Homo sapiens: one gene and its partner. The protein of the gene in region 2 purifies or fractionates together with the protein of the main gene of each other region. This does not show direct contact. Each region holds a gene or a part of one and is shown on either strand. Other genes may lie near its edges.

The links.
Region 1: the proteins of DSG3 (region 2) and SYT11 purify together in Homo sapiens (co-immunoprecipitation; one large-scale study listed by IntAct). This does not show direct contact.

Annotation. Positions count from the first base shown.
Region 1 is NC_000001.11:155,880,067-155,883,566, reverse strand, and holds part of SYT11 (synaptotagmin-11), read right to left. Parts: intron 3,068-3,500; coding exon 2,944-3,067; intron 2,379-2,943; coding exon of another isoform or gene 2,370-2,378; coding exon 2,059-2,369; 3' UTR 1-2,058. UniProt on the Homo sapiens protein: Synaptotagmin family member involved in vesicular and membrane trafficking which does not bind Ca(2+). Inhibits clathrin-mediated and bulk endocytosis, functions to ensure precision in vesicle retrieval.
Region 2 is NC_000018.10:31,468,241-31,471,740, forward strand, and holds part of DSG3 (desmoglein-3 preproprotein), read left to right. Parts: intron 1-848; coding exon 849-1,109; intron 1,110-3,500. UniProt on the Homo sapiens protein: A component of desmosome cell-cell junctions which are required for positive regulation of cellular adhesion. Required for adherens and desmosome junction assembly in response to mechanical force in keratinocytes.

The sequences.
Region 1 (3,500 bases), on a different chromosome or scaffold from region 2:
AGTTTATTTTAATTAATTAATTAATTAATTTTTGAGACAGGATCTCACTCTGTTACCCAGCCCAGAGTGCAGTGGCATGATCATGGCTCACTGCAGCCTCTACCTCTGGGCTCAAATGATCCTCCCACCTCAGCCTCCTGAATAGCTGGGACCACAGGCGTGCAGCACCACACCTAGTTAATTTTTTGTATTTTTGATAGAGATGGAGTTTCGTCATGTAGCCCAGGCTGGTCTTGAACTCCTGGGCTCAAGCGATCTTTCCACCTCGGCCTCCCAAAATACTGGGATTACAGGCGTGAGCCACTGCGCCCGGCCCCAAGTTTACCTATTATCCATGGAGTCTGTGCCATCTGCAAAGTCTCAACGTTGGAGACACAGCTGCTGTAGGAGTAAAGAGACTTGAATTCTAATCCCAGAAAGATGCTGAATCTCTCTCAACCTCTATTGCCCATTGGTAGAAGAAGAATTGCATCCTGTAGTTCCTCCATCCCTCCACCATGTGGTAAGACATAAATTCCAAGAATTATGCAGCTCGTTTTGAGGAAAAGAATGCTCTGAAAGAATCCAACTTATCTTCATTCACTCAGTCACACTGTTATTTTTTTAAGAGCTAAATTTTTATTGAAAAATTTAAGGAGAACTTCTGAGGGCCCCTGTTTTATGAAGCAAAGCTAACCTCATTACAACATCTAAGCTATTTGAGAAGACTCTAAAGCATCTCCATGGTCGGCATTTCCAGAAAAACAAAGGCCAGTGTAATTCTTCAAACCTCTGATGACTTCCAACCCATCAACCAAGAAATGGCTGTCACTACAGTAGATAGCTGCAAAGGGGAATGGCTGTCGTCACTTGTCTCCTCTCCTTGTCCTTATACCTGAAAACAGCTTTTGGGATCAGCTGGATGTGTTCATTGGTACTATCCTATAGCTGAATTTGAAGTTTCCAAAGCTCCTTTTAGAGAAGTCATCAAGTTTGATAAAATCCAAGTTCTGATGTCTTGGATGCATAAGTCTGATGTATTCTCTGTGCTTCAGTTAGGTCTGTCAGTTAATTATAGACTGCCTTTTACTACTTCATAGCAGAAGAGCTGATAGCAAAAATACCCCATTTCTCAATTCCTCTTTCTCCTGCAAACCTTGCCTCATCCACCCCACCTTTGTTTCTTGGCTTACTGCAGACCTCTAGACCTTGAGGTCAAAGAGCAGAGATATAAGAGGCAATAAAAAGAAAAGATGGGAATGATGAAAACATGAGGTTTTATAAGAGCAAAATTTTCTTCTGCAGAGGTGGGGAGTGGGAGAAATTCTCCAGAGAAGCCCAATAAAAAGAAGCCAATTTCAGGTAATCAGCAAATACAATTCAGCACAAAACACAATTTCCATGGATTAAAATCTGCAACTTGATATTGGCAGTTAGGCTAATTTCTTCAGTTTGTATTAGACATGCAAGTATATGGTTACATTGTTATATATAGATTTATAGGGGTCTTTCCCTCTCTTTTGTCCCCCATTAAAAAAAAAAAACAAAACAAAACCAGAGGCCGGGCACGGTGGCTCGCACCTGTAATCCCAGCACTTTGGGAGGCCGAGGCGGGTGGATCACCTGAGGTCTGGAATTCGAGACCAGCCTGGCCAACATGGTGAAACCCATCTCTACTGAAAATACAAAAAATTAGCCGGGCATGCTCGTGGGTGCCTGTAATCCCAGCTACTTGGGAGGCTGAGGGAGGAGAATCACTTGAACCTGGAGGGCAGAGGTTGCAGTGAGTTGAGATCTCACCATTGCACTCCAGCCCGGGCAACAAGAGCGAAACTCCACCTCAAAAAAAATAAAGTAAAATAAAAGATTCTAGCGCCTTGCAAAGCAGAAAAAAAAACATCATTGCTAAGAACTGATCTGCAGCTGTGGTCATATAGGGTGTTCTTTGTGGAATTTGTTTTGTAAGAAATTTTCTTCTACAACTAAAATGAGGTTTGGAGTCCACTTCTCTGTCATCTTTTTCCCCTCCACATCCCTCCCCAGCTTGGCCCCCGGGGATTAGAGGAGAGAAGAACAGGATTAGTACTCGCTCAGACTGTGCCACTTGGCCACAGGCTTGCGGGGGCTCTCGCAGACCTCTCTCCAGTGTTCAGCACCACTGGCTGTGACACTGTGTGCCCCCAGGATCAGCCTCCCCACCACCTCATTCTTGGTGGTGCGATCGAAGTCGATAACGAGGAACTCGATGCTGATATCAGGCAGGAGGTCAGTGGGGATGTCGTAGATGAAAGATTCATTGAAGATGGGGTTCAAAGTGCACTTCTTCACATGGGTTTTCTTCTTGGCAATGCGCTTTCTGCCGTAGTAGACGTTCACCTTGACATAAGGATCTGGGGCCCCCAAAGAGATAAGAAAAAGGGAGACAGACCTATGACACAGTCCTCTCCTATGTAATGGTAATTTCATGTTGGGAAAGGGGGGGCTCTGTTGTTCGTATCTTTGATGGCCATCCCATGTGTTCTTTAGTGATTGCACAATAAACACACACTGACTATATGTGAGTCTGCCTGCCTGGATGAGGGGCCAAGGAAACCAAGCAGGAATAGAACAGAACAACTTTCTCAGGTTAGGTCTGAAGAAATCCCATGATACCAAGAAGTATATTAAAGGGCACAGAGACAAATGCCTGCAGCCTTTTTGAGAAGTCTCTCTTAGCACCTGGCATGAATATTATTTAGGATACCTTGCCAAATGTAAAGACCCCATTTGTTCAACTGAAGAATCTTCCTAGCCAGGGAAATCTATTGGACGTAGATACTCATCAGGAAGAGAATGTCTACAGAAAGAGGAGCAGATTAAAAGTGAAAGAGGCAAGGATCTTGAAGTGTGGAGGTCTATCTGGGCCACAGGCAAGGAGTCGGGGATGGTTCAGACAGTAAGAAATAGGTTGAAGTAAATAGCTGCTACCTGAGAGACCGGTGATATCCATCTTCGGCAAGTGTCTGGCTTTGAGGACCACCACTGTCATTCTCTGTGCCACAGGCTGATATGACAGAGACACCTGGAGCTCCCCTCTGCTGATGCACTTCTGTGAGGAAAAAATGGCAGGTGAGAATCCTGGCAGAGGGTGCAGGGCAGAGCACAAAAAGTGTGCAGAGCAGTGGGAAGAGTCTGGGGGAGGACAAGTGCAGGGATGATAAGTTTTTTGGAAAGATGCTCATCCCCTGGAAAGGTGTTATGATTTTATTTAACAAGGAGGGAGAAAGGAAACATTATAACCATAATTCTGATATTAAATAATTTGCATGGAGAGCCCACATAGCCTTGGATTTATGAGCATGACCTCTGGAGCCAGATTAGCCTGGATTCAAATCCTGACTATTTCTCTTTTTTTTTGAGACAGGTTCTCACTCTGTTGCCCAGATTGGAATTCAGTGACGTGATCTTGGCTCACTGCAGCCTCCATCTCCTGGACTCTAGCAATCCTCCCACCTCAGCCTCCTGAGTAGCTAGGACTACAG
Region 2 (3,500 bases):
TGCAGCTCACGGGATAAGAACCAGGAAGAGCACTTGAGGTAGTAGCAGCCAAAGTTGAAAGTCTTGATAAGTAAAACACAAGAACACAAAGTCAGGAACACTAACACTCAAAGGGCCACACAAGTCCAAGGATTGGTGCAGACATACAAGAGAGTGGTTAAGCCCCAGAAGAGGAGTACCTGACTCTAAATGATGTCGCCCATCTTCTTTAGTGGGAAAAGCAGAGTAGAACTGAGTTTCATGGGAGAGAATAATTGGCCTACCTGCAACAGAGAGGACAAGGAGGCAGGTGTAGACAGATTTACCCACTTGAACCCATTATAGCCCTCATCACTGCTCAAACATCACTCTATTATCAACCCTATTGTTTGTGGCAACTAACTCTGCTAATGAAAATAAGTAGTAAGAGTGTAAGACACTGCTGTGGTTGGAATAGGTCTTCCAAAGCTCATGTGTTGAAAACTTAATCCCCACTGCAGTAGTGTTGAGAGGTGAGACCTGTAAGAGGAAATGAGGTCATGAGAGCTCTGTCCTCATGCATGGATTAATGGTGTTACCATGGGAGTGGGTTCATTACAGTAAGAGTGAGTTGTTATAAGGGTGAGTTCAGCCCCCACGTGCTCTCATGCTCTCTTGTCCTTCCACCTTCCACCGTGGGATGATGAAGTCCAAAGGCCTTTGTCAGATTCTGACACCTTGATATTGAGCTTCCCAACCTTCAAAACTGTGAGAAATAAATGTGTTTTCTTTATGAATTATCCAGTCTGTGATATTCTGTTATAGCAACACAAAATAGACTGAAAAGACACTTCGTCCTACTGTTGATTTGCATGATTCTTTCTCTACAGCTACCTCGGCCCTCCTCAGAGCCCAGGAACAGATACCTCCTGGAGTATACCACATCTCCCTGGTACTTACAGACAGTCAGAACAATCGGTGTGAGATGCCACGCAGCTTGACACTGGAAGTCTGTCAGTGTGACAACAGGGGCATCTGTGGAACTTCTTACCCAACCACAAGCCCTGGGACCAGGTATGGCAGGCCGCACTCAGGGAGGCTGGGGCCTGCCGCCATCGGCCTGCTGCTCCTTGGTCTCCTGCTGCTGCTGTGTGAGTAGCCAATGTTTCATTCTCTGTTGGACCAGGTGTCCTCATTTGCAAAGGCCTCCATGCTGCCCTGCTCATCTGTGCAATGGGGAAAGAATATTCTCTGATGTTTTATAGGTAAAGCTAGGGGAAAATGGCATTTTCAGAAAGAATCTGAAATGTGTAACATGTCGCTTGCTAACAGTCTATATTCATATAGCAACACAAGTTATATATGTCAGACATTTAGAAGACAGCACAAGATAATCAAGAGAAAAGCAAATCATGAAGACTTTCTACACACTGTTAGTAATGTTCATGGTCAAAATTATGGCTTTATCCAAGAGTGTGGCACTTTCTAAGATGTTTTCTCTATATTCATTACATCTCATGAGATTCTAAGATAAAAAGAGAACACTAGTCAAACAAAGTTAGGGAAATACAAATAGGGTATCATAGGCTATTAAGATATCACCACATGCTATTAATATTAATTAATTAATTAACCCCCACTAATATTAATCAATAGCATATGATATTAATATTAATATCATATGCTATTAAGATAGCTAGGTTCTGAGAAGTTATTGCTTCATCTAGCATTTCCTCAAAATAGATTGCCATCTGAATATGCATCCCCTTTAATACTTTCACATTTAATATAACTAAGTTTATTAAACACATTTAGAAAACTATGCGTAAGTATCCTTTTCCAATAAAGGTAAAATTTATTCAATAGATAGGTTTCTGAAAAGTTGTATTTGAATCAAAATCATATAAATCAAATAGTATTTGATTGTAAGAGGTCTCTATTTAAAAGAACTTCCTGACTAATTCTTGTATAAACAAGAGAAATCCTTGCTAAATTCACACTTTCTTAATTTATTATAAAAATCACAGTTTTAGAGTTAAAATTAATTATATGATTATTAATTTTAAAACCACAAAAAGTAGAGAAAATGTGTAGACAACTACACATACAACCATCACTTCAACTGAACAGATATGAATGTTTTGCAATATTTTTTCAGGTCCCTTTTTTTAAAAAGAAATAAATTGCTATAGATACAGCTAATTGCCACACATGCTATATTTTTCCCTTCCTTATTCTCCAAAAGCATTTACTATTCTAAAGTTATTATACACCATTTAGTTTAAGAGCTGAAATTGACACTCAGAGATTTGGTTTTTCAATATCGTATTAATCAAGTTCAAGAACCAGAAATTTTTAAGTACCTCTATGTGAATCACTATGCTAGCTTCTAGCTGAAAAGGAAACTTGATTTTGGTTTTCATGCATGTCTAACTATAGGGGAAAAATACCATGATAAAGCTGTAATAGAAATTACTACAAAGGGGTAATTACAGAACATTTCACGGAATAGAGGAATCATTCAATTGAGCCTTGAAGAATGATTAGGATATAATCAGTATAAAAAATGGAAAAGGCATTTCCAAAAATTGACAGCATCAGCCAAGGCCAGAAAACACTTAGTATTTTCTGTTTTAGGAATCACACAGCCTTCGAAGGCTAAAGCGCGGGGAAATTGTGGAAAGTGAAGGAGCAACAGAGAATGCATTGGGACTAATTTGAAAGGGCTACATACACATGCTGTGGTGTTTGTACTTTATCCTATGAGAAAGAGGAGCTGCTAAAAGCATTTGAATAAAAGACTAACATGATCATATTTGTATTTTAGAAAGACAACCCTGGCAACAGTGTGTACAGTATAACAGTGTAAATTAGAAAGGAAAGAACACTTAAGAGGTCATTGTAAAAGTTCAAGAGAGATGATGAAGGTCAGATTTCGAGCTGTGACATGAGACTGGAAAATAAAGGACAAGTGTGCAGTGCATTACAGTGGCCCCTGGAGAGGATTGGGAGATTAATTGTTATGGTCTGAATGTGTGTGTCCCCCCAAAAAAATTCATATGTTGAAACTTAAACCCTAAAAAAATAGTATTAAGGAGTTGGGCCTTTACCTATATTAATTCAATCCTCATAACAACCTATGATGTAGATACTATTTATTCCCCCATTTTATGGATGAGTTAACTGAGCAAAGAAGGATGATATTACATGCCCAACATTACATAGCTGTTAAGTGGTACAGCCGAAATTTAAACCCTAGAATCTGACTTCGGAGGCTGCATGCTTAAACCCCTCACTAAGCTGCCTCTAAGTGAAGAGAGTTGAAACATTAGGATTCAGGTGGCCTTGGCAGGGCAGAGGTGGCAGTGGGGCCACTGACAACAAAGTGTGGGAAACACCTGCTTTCAAGAATAAGTATTTCACTCTTGGTCAGTTCACATGAGAATGACATTAATCTTTATTGCCAAGGATGTGCACAGAAAGATATTTACGCTGCCAGAAGAGTCCTCCAAGCTTAAGCCACAACTAAGAAATTCTTAAAT